Regions from separate parts of the Homo sapiens genome. Here regions 1 and 2 are each linked to region 3. The links come from fine-mapping of genetic effects on gene expression. A gene starts in region 3. Each other region holds a variant in brackets. All regions are shown on one strand. Distances are from middle to middle.

Region 1 (8,177 bases), 61 kb before region 3:
CTCAGAAGAAAATGAATTTGAGAGGTCAAGGCAGGAGGATCCCTTGAGGCCAGGAGTTCAAGACCAGCCTAGGCAACATAGCAAGACCCTTTCTGTACAAAAAATACAAAAATTAGCAGGGTATGGTGGCGTGTGCCTGTAGTCCCAGCTACTCAGGAGGCTGAGGCGGGCGGTGGAGGTTGTGGTGAGCTGAGATCGAGTCACTACACTCCAGCCTGGGTGACAAAGACTCTGTCTGTCTGTGTCTCTCTCTCTCTCTCTCAAAAAAAGAAGGGGCTGGGCATGGTGGCTCATACCTGTAATCCCAGCACTTTGGGAAGCTGAAGCAGGTGGATCACTTGAGGTCAGGAGTTTGAGACCAGCCTGGCCAACATAGCAAAACCCTGTCTCTACTAAAAATACAATAATTGGCCAGGTGTCGTGGCACGAGCCTGTGGTCCCAGCTACTTGAGAGGCTGAGGCAGGAGAATCGCTTGAACCTGGGAGGCAGAGGTTGCAGTGAGCCGAGATCGCGCCACTGCACTCCAGCCTGGGCAATACAGCGAGACTCAGTCTCAAAAAAAAAAAAAGGAAAAAAAACAAAGGTTAATTTTATGCCGTGTGAGTTTCACCTTAATAATAAAAACAAAGGAGGGAAAAATGCATCAACCTATTTGTGTGCTGATAGGAATGCTCCAGGGGTGCGGGGAGGTTGTTGAGGTAGGTGCTTGTCTAGGCCCATGAAGGGGTGGAGGAGTTGGTGGAGAAGGGGGCGTGGTTTTGCTGCATCCAGGGCAAATTGATTCTCACAGGGCAAGAGGAAGAGCCACTGCGTCTGGGTCCTGATGCAGGTCTGCAGGTTGATGGAGGGCAGTGGCTCTGGAAGGTCTCTCCTGCTGATTTCTGTTTTCTCAGAGATGCCACCTGGTCTGTGACAAAGATTGGTAAACAGGAGGATGATGTCAGTATTAAGAGGAAATAACAGGCCGGGTGCGGTGGCTGACGTCTGTAATCCCAGCACTTTGGGAGGCCAAGGCTGTCGGATCACTTGAGGTCAGGAGCTCGAGACCAGCCTGACCAACGTGGCGAAATCCCGTCTTTACTAAAAATACAAACATTAGCCAGGCATGGTGGCCTGTGCCTATAATCCCAGCTTCTCAGGAGGCTGAGACAGGAGGATCGCTTGGACCCGGGAAGCGGGTGTTGCAGTGAGCCGAGATCGGCCATTGCACTCCGGCTTAGGAGACAGAGTAAGACTCTGTCTCGGGCGGGGTGGCGGGGGAAACAGGGAATAACAGTAGGGGAAGTTCCTAGTAATGCATGTTTTTCCAAGTCCCAGAAAGAACATAGCGGCAGATGGCAAGTTGCCCCTAGGTGGTGGTCGTTCCCCATGTCCAACACCCAGTCAGCCTCGGGCTAATCCAGGGTCACTGACCATGTGCTTATCTGGCAGTTCTCCCTGGTTTTCATGCATTTTACTTTTGCTTTAACCTTTTCTGTTTCCGATCGAGTGACCATCATTTTTTTTCTACTGTTAAATATACATATCAATACATAATAGAAAAAAATACAAAAAGTACGTAAGTATTATACCTAAAAATAACATAAAATTGACCACTTTAACAATTTTAAAGTGGGCTTCAAAGGTATTCAGTATTTTTACAATGTTGTGCACTCATCACCACCACCCATCTCTAGAACTGTTGTTTGTTTTTGTTCTTGTTTTTTGTTTTTGAGACAGAGTCTCGCTCTGTTGCCTAGGCTGGAGTGCAGTGGTGCTGTGATCTCAGCTCACTGCAACTTCTGCCTCCTGAGTTAGAGTGATTCTCCTGCCTTAGCCTCCCGAGTAGCTGGCATTACAGGCACGTGCCACCACGCCCAGCTAATTTTTTGTATCTTTAGTAGAGATGGGGTTTTCACTATGTTTGCTAGGCTGGTCTTGAACTCCTGACCTTGTGATCCACCTGCCTCAGACTCTCAAAAGTGCTGGGGTTACAGGCGTCAGCCACCATTCCTGGCCAAGAAATCTTTTTTGTTTGTGAGATGGGGTCTCATTATGTTGCCCAGGCTGGTCTCAAGCTCCTAGCCTCAAGTCATCCACCTGCCTTGGCCTCCCAAAGGGCTGGGATGATAGAATTTAGCCACAGTGCCTGGCCTCCTCTTTTTTTTTTTTTTTTTTTTTTTTTTTTTTTGAGATGGAGTTGTGCTCGGTCATCCAACCTGGAGTGCTGGAGTGCAGTGGTGTGATCTTGGCTCACTGCAACCTCCACCTCCCAGGTTCAAGCAATTCTTCTGTCTCAGCCTCCTGTAGCTGGGACAACAGGTGCATGCTACCATGCCTGGCTAATTTTTGTATTTTTAGTAGAGATTCGAGATGGGGTTTCACCATATTGGTTAGGCTGGTCTCGAACTCCTGACCTCAGGTGATCGACTGGCCTTGGCCTCTCAAGTGCTGGGATTACAGGCATGAGCCATTGTGCCCGGCCACATCTGTTTTTATCAAAGTGAAATTCATATAACATAAAATTAACCATTGTGAAGTGAATGATTCAGTGGCATTTGGTACATTCACAGTGCAGTGCAACCATATCTATCTACTGCCAGAATATTTTCATGACCCCAAAAGGAAGCCCTGTACTCATTTTGGTGACTCACACATGTAATCCTAGTGCTTGGGAGGCCGAGGTGGGAGGATGGTTTGAGGCTAGGAGATTCAGATCATCCTGGACAACATAGCAAGGCCTAATCTCTACCAAAAATAAAAAAATTAGCTGGGTGTGGTTGTGTGCACCTGTCATCCTAGCTACTGGGAAGACTGAGGCAGGAGGATTGCTTGAGCCCAAGTGTTGGAAGCTGCAGTGATCTGTGATCACACCACTGCATTCCAGCCTGGGCAACAGAGCAAAACCCTGTCTCCAAAATAAAAAATTTAAAAATAAAAGAAATTGGATATTCTCCCCCTTTCCCTCTTTTTTTTCCCTCCCCCTCTTCTTGGTATCAGCCTGAATTAGATGAGAAATAACTGTTACTTGAAATGTTGATAAAACTTGATTGGGGCCGGGCACGGTGGCTCACGCCTGTAATCCCAGCACTTTGGGAGGCCGAGGCGGGCAGATCACGAGGTCAGGAGATCGAGACCATCCTGGCTAACATGGTGAAACCCCATTTCTACTAAAAATAGAAAAAAATTAGCCAGGCGTGGTGGCGGACGCCTGTAGTCGCAGCTTCTCGGGAGGCTGAGGCAGGAGAATGGCGTGAACCTGGGAGGCGGAGCTTGCAGTGAGCAGAGATCGCGCCGCTGCACTCCAGCCTGGGCGACGGAGCGAGACGCTGTCTCAAAAAAAAAAAA[AG/G]CAAGACTCCGTCTAAAAAAAAAAAAAAAAAAAAAAACCCCAAAAACTTTGGTTGAAAAATCCTCTGGGTTTTGTCCTTTAGCGGAAGGTAGTTTGTTTCTTCCCTTCCCCTTCCCTTCCTCTCTTTCTCTCATTTTTTTCTTTCAACAGGGTCTCCCTCTGTCAACCAGGCTGGAGTGCAGTGGCACCATCATGACTCACTATAGCCTTGACCTCCTGGGTTCAAGCGATCCTTCAGCCTCAGCCTCTCGAGTAGTGGGGACTACAGGCACACACCACCATATCCAGCTAATTTTTATTTATTTTTATTTTTTAAATTTTAGATGGAGTCTTCCTCTGTCGCCAAGGCTGGAGTGCAGTAGCGCAATCTCGGCTCACTGCAAGCTCCGCCTCCCGGGTTCAGGCCATTCTCCTGCCTCAGCCTCCCGAGTAGCTGGGACTACAGGTGCCCGCCACCACGCCCAACTAATTTTTTGTATTTTTAGTAGAGACAGGGTTTCACCATGTTAGCCAGGATGGTCTCGATCTCTTGACCTTGTGATCCACCCACCTCGGCCTCCCAAAGTGGTGGGATTACAGGTGTGAGCCACCGCGCCCGGCCTAATTTTTAAATTGTTTTGTAGAGACCAGGTTTCGCTATGTTGACCAGATGGGTCTTAAACACCTGGGTTCAAGTGATCTGTCTACCTTAGCCTCCCAAAATGTTGGGATCACAGGCATGAACCATATTGTCTGCCCCCTCCCCCAAGTTATTTCCATTTCATTAATATTTATGGATTTAGTAAAGTTTTTTGGTACCTCTTGGTGCAAGTTTTGCATTTTATATTTTTCCATAAAGGTATTCTTTTCATCTTCATCTTTTCTTTTAGTTTTGAGACGGAGTTTCGCTCATGTTGCCCAGACTGGAGTGCAATGGCGTGATCACAGCTTACTGCAACCTCCGCCTCCTGGGTTCCAGTGATTTTTCTGCCTCAGCCTCCCAAGTAGGTGGGACTACAGGCGGGCACCAGCAGGCCTGGCTAATTTTTTCAGATGGAGTCTCACTCTGTCGCTCAGGCTGGAGTGCAGTGGCACGATCTTGGCTCACTGCAAGCTCCACCTCCTGGGTTCACACCATTCTCCTGCCTCAGCGTCCTGAGTAGCTGGGACTACAGGTGCCCACCATCAGGCCTGGCTAATTTTTTGTATTTTTTAGTATACACGGGGTTTCACTGCATTAGCCAGGGTGGTCTCGATCTCTTGAGCTTGTGATCTGTCCTCCTCAACCTCCCAAAGTGCTGGAATTACAGGCATGAGCCACCCTGCCCCGCCAGTTTTTGTATTTTTAGCAGAGATGGGGTCTTGACATGTTGGCCAGGCTGGTCTTGAACTCCTGGGCTGAAGCGATCCACCTGCCTTAGCCTCCCAAAGTGCTGAGATTACTGGCGTGAGCCACTGTGCCTGGCATATACCCACTTTTAATCGCATGCAGATTAAGGGGCAGTTTATGTAGAAACTTTTAGGGAAGGGGGTACTAATCATTGGGGCATTGCCTGGAAAGGGGCAGTAATTCCTTGATGTTAGCATGGTAATGTGAAATTGACACGGCACACTGGCAGGCATGTCTCATCGAAAGCTGCTTCCCCCTCCCTTTTCCTTCACCTGTTTTAGCTAGTCCTCAATATGGTCTGGTGTCTGAGCCCCACCTCTGAAGTCAAATCTTATCTTCTACCTCACTAGGACTTGCCTAGGAGTTGCACTGATAGCCTAGACTGACTTTCAAATTTACTTAGAGACCCAGAGCACTTTAGCCCATGGTGGGTCGCAAAGTTTGCAGGAACTCAAATTCCACTGGGATCCATAATTTCCCTCTTGTTAGGGCTGGTTTAAATGCCCCCTCTATAGGGACCAGCCCTACAGGGCCTGTGGGTTTTTCTCCTCGTGTGTGGAGATGAGAGATCGTAGAAATAAAGACACAAGGCAAAGAGAAGGAAAGACAGCTGGGGCCTGGAGGACCACTACCACCAAGACGCAGAGACCGGTAGTGGCCCTGAATGCCTGGCTGCACTGTTATTTTTTGGATATAAGGCAAGGGGGCAGGGTAAGGAGTGTTGAGCCATCTCCAGTGATAGGTAAGGTCACGTGAGTCATGTGTCTACTGGACAGGGGGCCCTTCCCTGTTTGGTAGCCGAGGCAGAGAGAGGGGACAGCTTATGTCATTATTTCTTGGAGAGGTCAACGGCTTAATACTTTCACTTAATTCTGCTACTGTTTTCTAGAAGGCAGAGCCAGGTGTACAGGGTGGAACATGAAAGTGAAACAGGAGCGTGACCGCTGAAGCACAGCATGACAGAGGCTAGACTGTTAGGCCTCTGGATGGCTGTTGGCAGGTGGGGATGGTGGGGGCTTGACTGATGTCAGGCCTTCCACAAGAGGTGGTGGAGCAGAGTCTTCTCTAACTCCCCCAAGGAAAGGGAGACTCCCTTTCCCGGTCTGCTAAGTAACGGGTGCCTTCCCAGGCGCCGGCATTACCGCTAGACCATGGAGCCCTCTAGTGGCCCTGTCCGGGCATAACAGAGGGCTCGCACTCTTGTCTTCTGGTGTAACTATTTTTATTTTATATATATTTTTTATTTTACTGGAACAACTTGTGCCCTCAGTCTCTTGCCTCGGCACCTGGGTGGCTTGCCGCCCACACCCTCTATGGGTGGGCATCAGCTGAGTGTGGTCGGGTTTTTCTTTCTGCTCTAAAAGGACAGCGCTGGGTTCCATGCCTCACAATTGCTGCCCCCTCCCTCTCCCCAACACACAAAGGCACTCTCCACACCATGCTGCCAGGGGTGGCGGAGAGGTGGTGTCAGAGATTCAGGACTTTCAGTGTGTTTCTTCAGTGTGTCTTTCAGTGATATAAAGTTAAAACCGGGTACTGTGAGTGCTCACCTGATTTTTGGTTCTTCTTTTTTTTTTTTTTTTTTTTTTTTTTTTTTTTTTTTTTTTTTTTTTTTTTTTTCGGAGACAGAGTCTTGCTCTGTCGCCCAGGCTGGAGTGCAGTGGCGCGATCTCGGCTCACTGCAACCTCTGCCTCCCGGGTTCAAGTGATTCTCCTGCCTCAGCCTCCTGAGTAGCTGGAACTACAGGCATGAGCCACTGCTCCCGGCTGGGATTTTTGGTTCTTGGGAAAGTGCTTTTTTGTGTGTAGCTGTTAAATTGGTGTCCTTGTTGGAGGGATGGTTGGTGGAGCCTTCTATTCTGTTATCTTGTGCTGCCTTCTACATCCTGGGTTTTTGATATAGATATGTCATAGACTAATAATGGGCAGTTTTATTCTCTTTATTTCTCCTACTGATATCTTTTTTTGTTTTACGGTTTTTTTTTTTTTAATTGGCGGAATTTCACTCTTGTTGCCTGGGCTGGAATGCAATGGCGTGACCTCGCCTCACTGCAACCTCCGCCACCCAGGTTCAAGTGATTCTCCTGCCTCAGCCTCCCAAGTAGCTGGGATTACAGGCATGCGCCACCACACCCGGCTAATTTTTTTGTATTTTTAGTAGAGATGGGGTGTCTCCATGTTGGTCAGGCTGGTCTCGAACTCCCGACCTCAGGTGATCTGCCTGCCTCGGCCTCCCAAAGTGCTGGGATTAACAGGCGTGAGCCACCGCGCCCGGCCTTTTTTGATTTATTGTTAACTAGAACTCCCAGAATAATTTTGAATAAGGGTGGCGATAGCAGCTATTGTCTTATTTCTTACCTTAAGGGTTATGTACCCAACAATTAAATATGACATTAAATATAACATTTGACATGTATGATGCTTTATTTTTGTTTTTTAGTGTTGGGGCCTTCCACTATTCCTCAGGTTGGAGTGCAGTGGCAAGATCACGGCTCACTGCAGCCTTGAACTCCTGGTTCAAGTGGTCCTCCTGCCTTGAGCTCCTGAGTAGCTGGGACTACAGGCACATACCACCATGCCTGATTTTTAAATTTTGTGCAGAGATGGGGGTCTTGCCATGTTGCCAGGCTGATCTTGAACTCCTGGGCTCAAGTGATCCTCTCCCTTGGTCTCCAGAAGTGCTGGGATTACAGGTATGAGCCACCGCACCTGGCCTGTCTCTATATTTTTTTCTGTGACTTCTTTTATTTTTCTTTATTAATCTTGCCAGATGTTCGTCTGTTAGTCATTCAAATAACTAACTTTTAGGTTTGATGATCCTAATTTTAACACTTATCCTGTTTTTTCTTTTATTGAGCTTATTTTACTGTTCTTTAAAATCTTCTTAAATGCTTAGCTAATTATTTTTGAGCTTTTTCTTTTTTTTTTTTTTTTTTTTTTTTTTTTGAGTCTCACCCTGTTGCCCAGGCTGGAGTACAATGGCACAATCTTGGCTCATTGAAACTTCTGCCTCCTGGGTTCAAGCGATTCTCCTGCCTCAGCCTCCTGAGTAGCTGGGATTACAGGCACGTGCCACCACTGCTGGCTAATTTTTTTTTTTTTTTTTGTATCTTTAGTAGAGACGGGGTTTCACCATGTTGGTCAGACTGATCTCAAACTCCTGACCTCATGATCCACCCCCCTTGGCCTCCCAGAGTGCTGGGATTACAGGTGTGAGCCACCACGCCAGGCTGCTTTTTTTTTTTTTTCGTTTCTAATATAAGCCTGTTAGGCTGCAAACTTCCTCCAAAGGATTGCTTAAGCTACACTCCACAAACATTGACATGTAATATTTTTATATTTTTGCTATTCATCTTTTTTTTTTTTTTTTTTTTTTTGGAGACAAAATCTCACTCTGTTGCCAGGCTGGAGTGCTGGCATGTCTCAGCCTCCCGAGTAGCTGGGATTACAGGCATGTGCCACCACACCCAGCTAATTTT
Region 2 (8,177 bases), 28 kb after region 3:
GCTGGAGTGTAGTGGCATGATCATAGCTCACTGCAGCCTCAATTTCCCAGGCTCAAGCCAGCTTCCCACCTCAGCCTTCCAAGTAGCTGGGACTACAGGTGTGCGCCACCATGCCTGGCGAATTTTTCTTTTCTTCCTTTTTAGAGAGAGTTTCCTGCTATGTTGCCCAGGCTGCAGGCTGGTCTCAAACTCCTGGGCTCCCAAAATGTTGGGATTACAGGCGTGAGCCATTGTGGCTGGTGGAAGGTAGCTTTTTTTCTTTTCTTTTCTTTTGCCAGAATCTCACTTTGTCTCCAAGGCTAGAGTGCAGTGGCATGAGCTCAGCTTACTGCAACCTCCGCCTCCCAGGTTCAAGCGATTCTTTTGCCTCAGCCTCCTGAGTAGCTGGAATTACAGGCATGGGCCACCGTATCCAGCTAATTTTTGTATTTTTAGTAGAGATGGGGTTTCACCTTGTTGGCCAGGCTGGTCTTGAACTCCTGACCTCAGGTGATCCTCTTGCCTCGTCCTCCCAAAGTGCTGGGATTACAGGCGTGAGCCACTGCCCAGGGCCGGAAGTTAGCTTTGATGCACCCATTTGTCCTGGAGCCCCAGGAACAAGGTGTGCTCTACCAGAAAGAGTGCAGATGGGATGTGGATTCTGGAAATCATATGTAGGATTTGCAACCTCGTGCATGGTTCTGAGTATCTGTAGCTTGCAGCAGGTCTAGATATGCCAACCCTTGATTCAGAGCTCAAAAGTCATCAGGGTCTTATGGGCCAGCTGAGGACAGCCAGGGGTCAGGCACCAGGATTTTCTTTTTTTTTTTTGCATTAAATCAATTTTTTAGGCTGGATGCAGCACCTCATACCTGTAATCCCAGCACTTTGGGAGGCCGAGGCGGCATTGCTTGAACCTAGGAGTTGGAGTCCAGCCTGGGCAATGTAGTGAGACCCTATCTATAAAAAAAAAAATTAAAATCTGGCTGGGCGCTGTGGCTCATGCCTGTAACGCCAGCACTTTGAGAGGCCGAGTCCAGCGGATCACATAAGGTCAGGATTTCAAGAGCAGCCCGGCCAACGTGGGGAAACCCCATCTCTATCAAAAATACAAAAATGACCTAGGTATGGTGGCGCATGCCTGTAATACCAGCTACTTGGGAGGCTGAGGCATAAGAATCACTTGAATCTGGGAGGCAGAGGTTGCAGTGAGCTGAGATCACACTACTGCACTCCAGCCTGGGCGACAGAGCAAGACTGTCTCAAAAAAAAAAAAAAAAAAAAAAAAAGAAAAAAAAAAAAAGAAAAGAAAAAGAAAAAGAAAAAGAAAAAAAAAAAGAAAAAAAAAATGCTGGATGGGGTGGCTCATGCCTGTAATCCCAGAACTTTGCGAGGCTGATGCAGGTGGATCACCTGAGGTCAGGAGTTTGAGACCAGCCTGGCCAATGTGGTGAAACCCCGTCTCTATTAAAAATACAAAAATTAGCCAGGCATGGTGGCGCACACCTGTGGTTCCAGGTCCTCGGGGGGCTGAGGCAGGAGAATTGCTTGAACCCAGGGGATGGAGGTTGCAGTGAGCCGAGATCCACTGCACTCCAGCCTGGGTGACAGAGCGAGACTCTGTCTCAAATAAAAAAAAAGAAAGAAAGAAAGAAAGAAAAAGAACAACTTCATCACCCCGTAAAATTCCCTTACACTGCCCGTTAGGAGTCACATCCTTCCTTCCTTCTCCTTGACAACCACTGATCGGCTCTCTGTCGCCATAATTTAGCCTTTCCGGGACTGTTGTATAAATGGAATCAGTCACACACTGGATAGCCTTGTGAGACTGGGTTCTTTCTTTCTTTTCTTTTTTTTTTTTGGATGGAGTTTCATTCTTGTTGCTCAGGCTGGAGTGCAATGGCACGATCTCGGCTCACTGCAACCTCCACCTCCTGGGTTCAAGCGATTCTCCTGCCTTAGCCTCCCGAGTAGCTGGGATTACAGGCATGCGCCACCATGCCCAGCTAACTTTGTATTTTTAGTAGAGACGGGGTTTCTCCATGTTGGCCAGGCTGGTCTCGAACTCCCGACCTCAGGTGATCTGCCCACCTCGGCCTCCCAAAGTGCTGGGACTTACAGGCGTGAGCCACCGCGCCCAGCGAGACTGGCTTCTTTCACTCAAGCAGAGGAAAACAGTATTTGTTTTCCCATGGGCTTTTTTTTTTTTAAGACAAGGTCTGGCTCTGTCACTGAGGCTGGAGTGCAGTGATGCAATCACAGCTCAGTGCCAACTCCACCTCCCAGGCTCAAGCCATCCTTCTGCCTCAGCCTCCCGAGTAGCTGGGACTACAGATGCACACCACCACACCTGGCTAATTTTTGTATTTTCTTTCTTTTTTTTTTTTTTGTAGAGATGGGGCCTTGCTATGTTGCTCAGGGTGGTCTCAAACTCCTGGGCTCAAGCGATCCTCCTGCCTTGGCCTCCCAAAGTGCTGGGATGACAGGCGTGAACCACTGCACCCAGCCCATAAACGTTCTGATTTATAGCAGTTCAGGTTTGCAGCAAAATTGAGTGGAAAGTACAGAGATTTCCCATATATCTACCCTGCTCCCCAAGCCCAGCCTCCTCCTTATCAATGTCCGCCACTAGAGTGGTGCATTGGTTATACTTGATGAATCTCCAGGGACCCGTCCTCATCACCCCGAGTCCACAGCCTACATTAGGGCTCACTTTTTTTTTTTTTTTTTTTTTGAGAAGGAGTTTTGCTCGGCTAGTTATATGTTTTTTTAGCCAGGCTCTTTCTCTGTCATCCAGGCTGGAGTGCAGTGGCACCATCACAGTTCACTGCAGTGTCGACCTCTCCAGCTCAAGCCATCCCCCTGCCTCAGCCTCCCTGAGTAGCTGGGATTACAGGTGCACCATCATGCCTGGATAATTAAAAAATTTTTTTAGGCTGGTCACAGTGGCTTACACCTGTAATTCCAGCACTTTGGGAGGCCAAGGTGGGCAGATCACTTGAGGTCAGGAGTTCGAGACCAGCCTGGCAAACTTGTTGGAACCCTGTTTCTACTAAAAATTCAAAAATTAGCCGGGCGTGGTGGCACGCACTTGTAGTCCCAGCTACTCAGGAGGCTGAGGCAGAATTGCTTGAACCTGGGAAGCGGAGGCTGCACTGAGCTAAGATAGCACTACTGCACTCCAGCCTGGGTGACAAGAGTGAGATTCTGTGTTAGAAGAAAAGAAAAGAAAAAATATATTGTAATTTAAATTAATTTATTTAGAGACATGGTCTTTCTCTGTCCCCCAGTCTGACCTGGAACTCCTAGGCTCAAGCAATCCTTCCACTTCAGCCTCCTGAGTATCTGGGACCACAGGCTTGTGCCACTGTGCCCAGCAAGAGCTCATTTATTTTAATTAATGAGTTCCCATTGTCTGAAAGTACCACTGTTTATTTATTCATTCAACTCCCGAAGGGCATCTTGGTTGCTTCCAAGTTTTATGCAATTATGAATAATACTGCTGTAAACATCCGTGTGCAGGTTTTGTTTTGTTTTGTTTTTTTGGTTTTGAGACAGAGTCTCACTCTCTCGCCCAGGCTGGAGTGCAGTGGCGCCATCTCGGCTCACTGCAAGCTCTGCCTCCTGGGTTCACGCCATTCTCCTGCCTCAGCCTCCCGAGTAGCTGGTACTACAGGCACCTGCCACCATGCCCGGCTAATTTTTTGTATATTTAGTAGAGACAGGGTTTCACCGTGTTAGCCAGGATGGTCTCGATCTCCTGACTTCGTGATCCTCCCGCCTCGGCCTCCCAAAGTGCTGGGATTACAGGCATGAGCCACCGCACCCGGCCAGTTTGTTTTTTTTTTTTTGAGTCGGAGTCTCCCTGTGTCGCCCAGGCTGGAGTGCAGTGGTGTGATCTCGGCTCACTGCAACCTCTGCCTCACGGGTTCAAGTGATTCTCCTGCCTCAGCCTCCTGAGTAGCTGGGACTACAGGCACATGCCACCACGCGCAGCTAATTTTTGTATTTTTAGTAGAGACAGGGTTTCACCATATTGGCCAGGCTGGTCTTGAACTCCTGACCTCGTGATCTGCCCGCCTCGGTCTCCCAAAGTGTTGGGATTACGGGTATGAGCCACTGCACCTGGCCCATGTGCGGGTTTTCTTGTAGACATGAGCTTTCAACTCGTTTGGGTAAATATCTAGGAGTGAAATTAATTGGTTATATGGTAAGAGTATGTTTAGTTTTGTAAGAAGCTGTCACACTGTCTTCTAGAGTGGCTGTACTGTTTGGCATTTCTCTCAGCAAAGAGTGAGAT[T/G]TCCTGTTGCTATATAGGAAACATCTTTTTTTTTTTTTTTTTTTTTTGAGTCAGTCTTGCTTTGTCACCCAGGGTGGAGCACAGCGGTGTAATCTCAGCTTATTGCAACCTCCACTTCCCGGACTCAAGCACTTCTCATGCCTCACCCTCCCGAGTAGCTGGCATTACAGGCATGCACCACCACGCCCGGCTAATTTTTGTATTTTTAGTAGAGATGGGGTTTCACCATGTTGCCCAGGCTGATCTCGAACTCCTGGCCTCAAGTGATCCACCCACCTCGGCTCGCAAAGTGCTGGGATTACAGGCGTGAGCCACCACTCCTGGCCATATAGGCAACAAAATTTTTAATTACGGCAACATCTAGAAAAAAATGTTTTATCCTATATCCTGCATTTTTCTTTTTCTTTCTTTTTTTTTTTTTTTTGAGATGGAGTCTCACTCTGTCACCCAGGCTGGAGTGCAATGGTGCCATCTCGGCTCACTGCAACCTCTGCCTCCCAGGTTCAAGCAATTCTCCTGCCTCAGCCTCCCAAATAGCTGGGATTACAGGCTTGTGCCACCACACTCTGCTAATTTTTTGTATTTTTAGTAGATATGGGGTTTCACCATGTTGGCCAGGCTGGCCTTGGACACCTTGCCTCAAGTGATCCGCCTGCTTTGGCCTCCCAATATCCTGCTTTTTTCTGTAAAAATAGTATGAAAATATTTTACATATTGTTAAAGAAAATCTACAAACATTTTTCATAACTGCATATTGGATCTTATCACGTGATTGTACACAGCGTACCGGATACCTCAGGCTTTGCACTAACTGAATATTAAAATAACAATAACAGAAGCATTGTTATATGTAAATATTTGCCTATTTCTCATATTTCTTTCTCATGGATTCCCAGCAGTGGAAATACTGGCTGGAAAAAGGCAAACACGTTATGATTCTTGGTACATGTTGCCAAGAGCTCACCAGAAGCCTGAAATTTATGCTAAAAGCAGCAAGCTGGCCGGGCACAGTCGCTCATGCCTGTAATCCCAGCACTTTGGGAGGCTGAGGAGGGTGGATCACCTGAGGCCAGGAGTTTGAGACCAGCCTGGCCAACATGGCAAAACCCCATCTCTACTAAAAATACAAAAATGAGCTGGGCATGGTGGTGTGTGTCTGTAATCCTGGCTACTAGGGAGGCTGAGACAGGAGAATCACTTGAACCTGGGAGGCAGAGGTTGCAGTGAGCCGAAATTACGCCACTGCACTCCAGCCTGGACGACAAAGCAAAACTCTGTCAAAAAAAAAAAAAAAAAAAAAAAAGCTGCAAGCTGGGGTAAGAGTCTTCAGGAAAAAAAAAAAAAGGTTAGATTAAAATAGACAAAAGATGTCTCATTCTCTTTTCTTTTTTAGAGATAGAGTCTTACTGTGTTGCCCAGGCTGGGGTGCAGTGGAACTATCATAGCTCACAGAAGCCTCAGCCTCCTGGGTTCAAGTGATCCTCCCACCTCAGCTTCCCAAGTAGGTGGGATTACAGGCATGTGCGACCATACCCAGCTAATTTTTATTTTTTGCAGAGATGTGGTCTCACTACATTGCCCAAGTTGGTCTCAAACTCCTGGGCTCAAGTGATTCTCTCACCTTGGCCTCCCAAAGTGCTGGGATTACAGGCATGAGCCACAGCACCTGGCTAAGAATTCCTCTTTAAGTTTTAAAGAGAGACAACTCAGTACATTGCTTGACCATTTTGCCCTCTGCTCTTAAGCTTAGAAAATGCTTTCACATCTCAGAGATTTAAAATCCATTTCCAGCTGGGCACAGTGGCTCACGTCTGTAATCTCAGTACTCTGAGAGGCCAAGGCAGGCAAATCACTAGAGACCAGGAGTTTGAGACCAGCCTGGCCAACATGGTGAAACCCCGTCTCTACTAAAAAGACAAAAATTAGCTGGGCAAGGTGGCACATGCCTGTAATCGCAGCTACTCGGGAGGCTGAGGCAGGAGAATCGCTTGAACCCAGGAGGCAGATGTTGCAGTGAGCCGAGATTGTGCCACTGCACTCCAGCCTGGGCAATAGAGTGACACTCCATCTAACATAATAATAAATAAATCCAAAGAACTTAGTAAACTCCTTTGGTGTCACAAAGCTGTTTGATGACAGAATCAGTATTATAACCTGGAAGTTCAAACTCTGGCTTGGCGCTTTTTCTTATTTTATAGCTAGTCTTTGAGGTAAGATTTGTACTGTTAATTCATTCTGCCTACCCATCCACACACAAAAAATTATGAGGTCAAAAATAAATAATTTGAAATAGAGCAAAAGTAGAGGAAGTAGTGAAGGAAGAAAGGATTCTGGAATTCCATAAAAGTTTTGTGTTTTCTTTGTTTGTTTGTTTTTTGAGATGGAGTCTCACTCTGTCACCTAGGCTGGAGTGCAATGGCGCAATCTCGGCTCACTGCAACCTCTGTCTGCCTCCTGGGTTCAAGCGATTCTCCTGCCTCAGCAACCTGTGTAGCTGGGATTACAGGCGCCTGCCACCATATCTGGCTAATTTTTGTATTTTTAGTACAGACAGGGTTTCACCATGTTGGCCAGGCTGGTCTCAAACTCCTGACCTCAAATGATCCACCCGCCTCGGCCTCCTAAAGTTCTGGGATTCCAGGCGTGAGACACCGCGCCTGGCCTGTTTCTTTTCTTTTCTTTTTTTAATTGAGACAGGGTCTCGCTCTGTCACCCAGGCTAGAGTATGGTAGTGCCATCTCAGCTCAATGTGGCCTCAATCTGGGCTCAAGCAATTCTCCCATCAGGCTCCTGAGTAGCTGAGACTATAGTTGTGCACTACTATGCCTGGCTTTGCTGCTTTTTGATCTGATAACAGAAAATGGCCTGTATCAGCGACATAATCAGAAGTAGATAACAAAACCAGCTGGTTAAAAGGAAATTGCAAAAGAATAATACACCTCTTTGGTCAGGTGTGGTGGCTCATGCCTGTAATCCCAGCACTTTGGGAGGCCGAGGTGGGTGGATCACTTGAGTTCAGGAGTTTGAGACCAGCCTGGCCAACATGGTGAAATCCCGTCTTCAATATAAATACAAAAATTAGCTGGGCGTGGTGGCAGGTGCCTGTATTTCCAGCTAATCGGGAGGCTGAGGCAGCAGAATTGCTTGCAGCCAGGAGGCGGAGGTTTCAGCGAGCCAAGATCACACCTTTGCACTCCAGCCTGGGTGACAGACAGAGACTCTGTCTCTAAATCAATCAATCAATCAATCAATCAACCAATCACCTCTTTCACATGCCCCTAACACTGATCATGAAGGGGGTCAACTCACTGAACTACAAGAAATTGATTATGGTTACAGAAAATGTCATAAGTTGTATGTTTGTAGAGCATTATCTGCACACACACATATTCACTTTTCCATGCTTGTTATTCAGATAGCAGCTGCATTACATTTATATCATCCCAGCTATTGGCTTAGTAGCCAAGAATCTATATAGAGTTATAGGGCAGTGATAAAGATACGGTTTTAGAAGGCATTTACTATAGATTTTTTTTTTTTTTTTTTTTTTTGAGACGGAGTCTTGTCCTGTCACCCAGGCTGGAGTGCAATGGCACGATCTCAGCTCACTGCAACCTCCACCTCCCGGGTTCCAGCAATTCTCCTGCCTCAGCCTCCTGAGTAGCTGGGATTACAGGCAGGTGCCACCACGCCCAGCTAATTTTTGTATTTTTAGTAGAGATGGGGTTTTGCCGTGTTGGCCAGGCTGGTCTTGATCTCCTGACCTCGTGATCTGCCTGCCTCAGCCTCCCAAAGTTCTGAAATTATAGGCATGAGCCACCGCACCCTGCCTAGGTTGTTACCTTTTTTTTTTTTTTTTTTTTTGAGATGGAGTCTCGCTCTGTTGCCCAGGCTGGAG
Region 3 (8,177 bases):
CCACCGCGCCGGGCCTCTCTATGCTACTCTGGTCAGAGCCATGATGGGTCTGAGGGGCCTATTCAAGGATGGCAAAGAAAAGCCTGCGCTTGGCCAGGCACAGTGGCTCATGCCTATAATCCTAGTGCTTTGGGAGGTTGAGGCTGGAGGCTCGCTTGAGGCCAGGAGTTCAAGACCAGCCCGGGCAACATAGTAAGACCCCTGTCCATGTGTATAAAATTTTTTTTTAAGGATTAGCTAGGCCTGGTGGTGCATGCCTGTGGTCCCAGCTCTCAGGAGGCTGAGGTTGAGCTCAGGAGGTCGAGGCTGCAGTGAGTTATGATCATGCCACTGCACTCCAACCTGAGCGACAGAGCAAGATTCTGCCTTTGAAAGAAAGAAAGAGGCCGAGTGCAGTGGCTCATGCCTGTAATCCCAGTACTTTAGGAGGCTGAGGCGTTTGAGCTCAATAGTTTCAGACCAGCCTGGGCAACTGGCAAAACTCTACAAAATCACTACAAAAAAATGCAAAAATTAGCCAGGTGTGGTGGCTTATGCCTGTAGTCCCAGGCTGATTGCTTAAACTTGGGAGGTGGAGGTTGCAGTGGGCGAAGATCGCACCACTGCACCCCAGCCTGGGCAACAGAGCCAGAACTTGTCTTGAAAAAACAAAACAAAAACAAGAAAGAAAAGCAAAGAAAAGAGCTTGTACTGAAAGGCATGGGGAACAGAACAGGGTTGGTAAAGAGCAGCCACAAAAGAAAGTGAGACGGGCTGGGCGCAGTGGCTCACACCTGTAATCCCAGCACTTTGGGAGGCCGAGGCAGGTGCATCACCTGAGGTCAGGAGTTCGAGACCAGCCTGGCCAACATGGTGAAACCCACCCCCCTTCATCTCTACTAATAATATAAAAATTAGCCAGGTGTGGTGGTTCGCACCTGTAATCCCAGCTACTCAGGAGGCTGAGGCAGGAGAATTGCTTGAACCCGGGAGGTGGAGGTTGCAGTGGGCCGAGATCGCACCATTGCACTCCAGCCTGGGCGACAAGAACGAAACTCCATTCCAAAAAATAAAAAAAATAATAATTAAAAAAACAGTAAGATGCCTGCTACTGAATTATCAAACAGGGGTTTCAAGACCCTTTCCTCCTATGACAGCCCCAGCTCCCTTGGCTCCCAGCTTGCCACCCACTCCTGGTTTTCCTTCTGCCCTCTTTCTGCTGTCTCCCAAGCTCCCAGCTTGCTTTAAAGCCCATCCTACGCCGTACCACCTGGGTGTCTAGCAGCATGGCAATTTCCAGATGCTGAGAACAGATTGCTGACTTACACCTAAAGCTTCTCCCCCATGAGCAGCTGCTCCCTCCCCCGGCCTCTCCATATCTCTCCAAGATCCACCCAAGTCTCACCCGTCCACGCCTTCACCTGGTCCAGCCCCACCATTACTCCCCTGGCCTGGTGCAGTCCCTTCCATCCTGGTCTCCAGGCTCCTGCCTTCGACCCCTGCAGTCTGTTCCCTGAGCTCTAAATAATGCCAAATGCTTGTTCAAGGCTGGCAGGCTGGCTCTGCCCTTCTTCCTCTCCCCTCTTCTGGATCTTACAACCCTGGCTTTGTGGTTGTTTCATCCAAGCACCCTGGCAGTTTCTCTCCTCTGCAATTTGCCCACTGGTCTCTTGGCCTGGTTAACTCCTCCTTACCCTTAGCGACCCAGCCAACTGTCACCTCCTCCAGGAGGCCTTCCCTGACTCCTCCTTAGGCTGAGTCAGGTGACTCCTCTGGACTCCCCCTGACCCCAGGCATGACTCTGAATTTTTTTTTTTTTTTTTTTTTTTGGAGATAGTCTCACTTTGTTGCCCAGGCTGGAGTGCAGTGGCGCGATCTCGGCTCACTGCAAATTCTGCCTCCCAGGTTCAAGAGATTCTCCTGCCTCAGTCTCCCATGCAGCTGAGATTACAGGTACATGCCACCACGCCCGGCTAATTTTTGTATTTCTAGTAGAGATGGGGTTTCACCATGTTGGCCAGGCTGCTCTCGAACTCCTGACCTTAGGTGATCTGCCTGCCTCAGCTTCCCAAAGTGCTGGGATTACAGGCGTGAGCCACCACGCCCAGCCCCTCCGTGATATTTTAATAGCCTCCAGCTCTGTGATATTCTCGTGATATTTTAATAGCCTGTTTAGCACGTATTCACAACCAGCCAGGCACTGTGTTCAGCTCTTTACCTATAGGTCATGACTGCTATTATCCCATTTTACAGGTGGAGAAACTGAAGCAGGAAGTGGTGAAGTCAGTAGCCCGGAGGCCCTCAACTCAAAGTGGCAGGACAGGGCTGGGGGGTGGTCAGGCTCAAGCCCAGCCAGTCGGAAAGGGAGAAGCTTGTGGTGCTCAGAGAAGGGGACAGGGCAGCGAGCTCCCAAGGCACCTGCCTTTCTGTGCCATCCCACGGGTGGGAGGAGGGAACCTGGGCCCACTTCTGCTGCCAACTACAGGCATCCCAGTGGCTCCTGAGCCAAGACATTCTGTGCCACGCACTGGGTCAACCGCTTTATTCAACCTGCAGACAGCCCTGGGTCAGGAGGTGGACACTGTTGTGAATTTCTCAGAGGAGAAATGGAAGCCCATACATCCCCCTGAACTCCCACCGGGCGTTAGAACCCTCTCCGGTTCCTTAGGGGTGTGGCTGCCACCGAGATCTGCCTAGCCTCGGCTTTCATCGATCCATGAACACTCCCAGGCTCAGATACTACTGACCCATTTTACAGATGGGTAAACTGAAGCTCAGAAACCTTTCCCTGGGGGCCCTACAGCCAGTTCAACGACCAAGGCCGCCCCCCACCCCCCACACCCCAGGCTCAAAGTACCTCTGCTGGCAGTGGGTGAGCTGGAAAAACAGGTAAGGAAAGTCCTCAATGCCTCTTCCTCCACGCCTGGCTGGGCCTGCTGGGGCCCAGGTGCACTGAATGAGGCTTCTAATCAGTCCCCCAGCTCCACTTCTGTGTTTATTCACAGCAGCTGCTCCTGGAAGGCAGACCCATTTGAGGCTGGGGGAGGCCGAGGGCTTCAAAGACAATTCCACAGTCCAGGAACCCTATCCCCATATAACAGACCCAGGTCGCCCCAGTGGGGTCACCCTGGCCTCTGCGCTCAGATGCCTGAGACCTTGCCTGAGCTCAGACTGGAGTCGATGGGAGCATTCCCCCATCTGGTAGGTTTTGCAAACCACAACAGCCTCTCCCCCTGCCCACCTTCCTGTGTCCCCCAGAGCAGCTTCTCCTCAAGTCTCCCAACCCAGCAATGAAAGCCTCTTCTATATACTCCTAACTACCCAGGAGAAACATCGGTCCCCCACGCTCCACTTGCAAACAGACAGAATTAGACGATGTTACTCTGCCAAAGCGAATTTTCAGTTCACCCACTTCCTATCACACCTTCCAGCCAGGTCAAGCCAGAAGCCCCCTTCCAAGTATCCCCATCTCTCCTACCCACAGCGGCTACGGGATGTTCTTAAGACACAATCCGATCACGCCATGCACCTGCTGTTCCAAGCCTCCCTGGTCCCCACCGCCCCGAGAACGGGTTCCACACTCTCCTCGCCGCTTCCCAGGCCCCGGCCAACCTCTCTCCACCTCAGACCCTCCCTCTCCGCGTTTCAGCCAGGCTGGCCTCTTTTCTGCTCCGCACACACTCCCGGCTAGGCCCTGGGCCTAAAAAGCCCTCGCTGGCTGGTCCAACCAGGCCAAATGACATTATCCCCGCCTGGGCACCTCCACCTCACCCCGGCCGCCTGATGGGTTAGCTCGGGCTTGGAATGACGTGTTTAAGCGGTTCTCAGAAGCCGTCTACGCGGCCGGGCTGCGGACTCCGAGGCCAGGGCCCCAGCTGCGTCCCCAGCCCTGGCACGTCGGGGAAACGGGGCGCTCCCCCGGCTCACACATCCGGATTCCCCCGCGTCACGAGGCCAGGATCGCCCCTACTCGCTCCAGCCCGTTTCACAGCCGCGTCCTCGGGCACCCGTTGCGCCCCGGCCCTCGTGGGGGAGCGCGGATAGCTCGGGGAGACGGCCATGATGGGAAGCCCCGAGGGGGACAGTCCCCGGCGGGGTGATGGGGGCTGGAGCCCAGCTGCGAGTGGGGGCCGGGCTGGGGCCGCCATGGCCGCGGAGGCGGGGCCGGGGACCGCCGTGAGGGTGGCGTTCGGGGCGGTGTTCGCGGCGCGGGGTGCTCGCTTACCTGGGGGTGCAGGCGGCCGGGCGCACCGAGGGCCGGCGGCGGGGCTGGGGACGGCGCGCCTAGCGGGCTACCCGGAGCAGCTGCAGACACGCGCCGCCCGCCCCAGGCAGCCGGACTCTGCTCCTGGCCGGGCCTCGGCCCCCAGCAGGGGAAAAAAGGCTTGAGTGGGGGGAGCCCGGGGCGGGGCCGTGGGGGCGGGGCCTGGGCGGGGCACGCGCCCCGGAACGGTGGGGCCTGGCGCGGGGCTGGGGCCCTGGAGAGGCGGGGCCTGGCGCGGGGCGGGGGACTTGGAGGGGCAGGGCCTGGAGCGGGCGCCGGGTCCTCCAGGCGCTTGCCCCCCTCGACGCAACTAGGCCTCTCCCTGGCCCCCGACCCCGCACCCGCACCCCATCCCCGCCCCCGTCCCCGCCCCCCCATTCTCGCCCCCGCCCCCGTTCCCGCTCCGCCCATCTCTGCCCCGCGGCGCGCCTGGCCCGGGTCCAGCCTAGCGTTTCTAGTCTGCGCCTTATCTCTCCCCTTTGAACCCAGTATTGTCCGCTGCGCGCTCCGTCCGGCCCCGGCTTCACCCCTGTTCGCTGTCTGTCTCCCCGGCCCCCTCCCAGGTCCCCTCTTCTGCCCGAGATGCTCTGGCTCTGCTCATCTGTCCACACCCCCACACTCCCGGGGCGCCCTGAGCCTCTGGGGCGCGCAGTTGGATGGTGCACAGGGGAGGCCCAGATTTCTCCAGGCCTCAGCGGCCACCCTGGGTACCCCGAGTCTGGGGCCCTGTTGGAGGGCCAGTCCAGGGGTTCGCCCGAGGCGCGCGCGGGGGCCAACCGAGGCGGTGAGGGCACCGGGCAAAGGCTGCGATTTGGTGGGGTGCAGGGGTCAGGCGACAGAGCTGGGGAGATAAGATGGGAGATAGGCCGGGTGGGTGGTGGCGCAGCCCTGGTTTTGGCTGAGGGCAGCAGCAGTGGGGGCTGGGTCCCCCGCTTGCCTGGTAGAACCGAAAATGACCCAGTCTCAGCAGCGCGCAGGGGCAGGGAGCCTGGGCGATCCCTGAACAGAGGACAGCCCCAGGGGTTTTCATAGTCGCTGGCCCACCGCATGTACTCTGGGCAAGTGGCTTCGCCTTTGGACAATAAGCCTCTGTAAAATGGGGATAATAAACCTTTCTCTGACTCAGCTCAGCAGACCCAAGACCCATGGGGTGAAGTTGGGGCCTCCCTGCCACAGGGCCCTAGGCAAGCTGAGATTTGATTTCCTCACACAGACAGGGGCGCGGGGGGCGGGGCGGTCAGGGAGGCAGGAGACCTCTGTTGCAAGTGTGGAAGAACCTGTCCCTCCAAGTTCAGACTCCTGGCGTTTGCACTTGGCCTTCCCTCTGCTACACTGTTTCTCTTTTCTTTTTTCTTTTTCTTTTTTTTTTTTTGAGACGGAGTCTTGCATTGTGGCCCGGGCTGGACTGCAATGGCATGATCTCGGCTCACTGCAACTTCTGCATCCTGGTTTCATTCGATTCTCCTGCCTCAGCCTCCCGAGTAGCTAGGATTACAGGCGCCCACAACACCCGGCTAATTTATATATATATATATTTTTTTTTTTGGAGAGACGGGGGTTTCACAATGTTGGCCAGACTGATCTCAAACTCCTGACCTCGTGATCCACCAGCCTTGGCTTCCCAAAGTGCTGGGATTACAGGCGTGAGCCAGCATGCCCGACCTTCTCTTTTCTTTTTTTAAAAAAATCTGTTAGAGGCTGGGTGCGGTGGCTCACACCTGTAATCCCAGCACTTTGGGAGGCTGAGGCGGGTGGATCACCTGAGGTCAGGAGTTTGAGACCAGCCTGGCCAACGTGGCAAAATCCCATCTCTACTAAAAACACAAAAATTAGCCTGGAGTAGAATTACGTGAACCCAGGAGGCAGAGGTTGCAGTGCGTGGAGATCGTGCCACTGCACTCCAGCCTGGACAACAGAGTGAGACTCTATCAAAAAAAATTTCGTTAAAGATGGGAGTCTCACTCTGTTGCCCAGGCTAGAATGGAATGTCATGATCCCAGCTCATTGCAGCCTGGGACTCCAGGGCTCAAGCAGTCCTCTCACCTCAGCCTCCAGAGGAGCTAGGACTATAGATGCCTGCCACCATGCCCGGCTAATTTTTTTTTGTTTTAAATAAAAAAACTTTGGTAGGCAGGGTGTGGTGGCTCATGCCTGTAATCCCAGCACTTTGGGAGGCCGAGGCAGGTGGATCACGTGAGGTCAGGAGTTCGAGACCAGCCTGGCCAATATGGCGAAACCCCTTCTCTACTAAAAATACCAAAGTTAGCTGGGCATGGTGTTGCGCACCTGTAATCCCAGCTACTCGAGAGTCTGAGGCAGGAGAATCACTTGAACCCAGGAGGCGGAGGTTGCAGTGAGTCAAAATCGTGCCGCTGCACTCCAGCCTGGGTGACAGAGCAAGACTCTGTCTCAATTAAAAAAAACAAAAAAAAAAACTTTGGTAGAGGTGGGGTCTTGCTATGTTGCCCAGGCTGGTCTGGAACGCTTAGGCTCAAGTGATCCTTCCGCCTCCGCTTTCCAAGGTGCTGGGATTACAGGCAAGAGCCACTGTGCCCCAGCCTCTTTCCCTTTTCAAATGCATACATACTTCTCCCTGAGCCTCAGTCCCCTCCTCCTTCCTCCATTGCCTGCTTTACCCCACCCCCACCATATTCACCTGTTTATTTTCTCCTCTCCTTCCCTCCAAGAGCTTGTTTGCACACCTGGAAAAGAAAGATAATAAAGCAACTCTTCTCAGTTGTTGTGACTAGGGAGTTATTGAATATCACATGTCGCATACTCCAGGGTGCTCAGAGCATGGCATTTGTTTGTATTAATAATAATATATGACCGGGCTTGGTCGCTCACACCTGTAATCCTAGCACTTTGGAAGGCTGAGGTGAGTGGATTGCTGGAGCTCAGGAGTTTGAGACAAGCCTCGGTAACATGGCAAGAGCCCCATCTCTACCAAAAATACAAAAATTAGCCAAGCGTGGTGGTGTGCTCCTATAGTCCCAGCTACTCAGAAGGCTGAAGTGGGAGGATCACTTGAGCCCAGAAGTCAAGGCTGAGGTGAACTATGATCATGCCACTGAACTCCAGCCTGGGCAACAGAGTGAGATCCTGTCTCAATTAAAAAAAAAAAAAAGAGACACCAGCCTGGGCAACATAGTGAGACCCCGGTATCTACAAACAATAACGATAATATAATACAGGATACATGGTGGAATGGTGGAGTCCACGCCCCAGTGGAGAAGCCCCAGGACTCCGGAGAAGTGGAGTAGGGGAGCTCAAAAGAGGACCTGGGCAGGCCAGGGCTGGAGAGAGATTTCAGGTGGAAGGTACCACATGGGGCAAAGGTTGGGAAGCTGGAGGAAGACACCTGGGGTCAGCCAGGCAGGAAGGGACCCAGGCTGCACCTTCTGCAGTTGGGCAGCTTCTCGCCTGTCCTCACCTTCCACCCCGATCCCTGACCATGGAGCTCAGGCCGGACCCCAAGCTTGAGAGTGAGTGGGTGTTCAAGGCAGGCTTCCTGGAAGAGGTGACATCTGAGCCCTGAGAAATGAGCGGGTGGGGGAACTATACTGAGAGGAAGTTTCCTGGGAGGACAGCAGGGCTGGCCCAGCCACAATAAGCCCTCCTGGGTTCTCTCCAGGGAGAGGCACCAATGGACTTACTGATTTATTTTGAGATGGAGTCTCACTCTGTCATCCAGGCTGGAGTGCAGTGGCACGATCTCAGCTCACTGCAACCTCTGCCTCCTAGGTTCAAGTGATTCTCCTGCCTTGGCCTCCCGAGTAGCTGGGATTACAGGCGCACACCACCACGCCCGGCTAATTTTTGTATTTTTTGTAGAGACGGGGTTTCACCATGTTGGAGAGGCTGGTCTTGAACTCCTGACCTCGAGTGATCCCTCAAGGGATTATGGGCATGAGTCAATGCACCTGGCCAACAA

Evidence for each region. PIP is the estimated chance that this variant, and not a neighbour inherited with it, causes the effect.
Region 1: its variant is fine-mapped to the expression of CERS4 in whole blood (INTERVAL, PIP above 0.99).
Region 2: its variant is fine-mapped to the expression of CERS4 in whole blood (TOPMed, PIP 0.98).

Annotation. Positions count from the first base shown.
Region 1 is chr19:8,266,762-8,274,938 of GRCh38, reverse strand. No RefSeq gene overlaps it. Among named protein-coding and RNA genes, the nearest start is that of CD320, 38 kb to the left of the region's middle. RefSeq lists an enhancer at 5,634-5,963. The variant AG/G (reference allele first, on the strand shown) is at 3,329.
Region 2 is chr19:8,177,222-8,185,398 of GRCh38, reverse strand. No RefSeq gene overlaps it. Among named protein-coding and RNA genes, the nearest start is that of CERS4, 28 kb to the left of the region's middle. The variant T/G (reference allele first, on the strand shown) is at 4,280.
Region 3 is chr19:8,205,522-8,213,698 of GRCh38, reverse strand. It overlaps CERS4 (ceramide synthase 4), which reads right to left and starts at 4,329. Exons shown (of 12, transcript NM_024552.3): 1 at 4,205-4,329; 2 at 2,837-2,993. RefSeq lists a silencer at 3,729-4,648.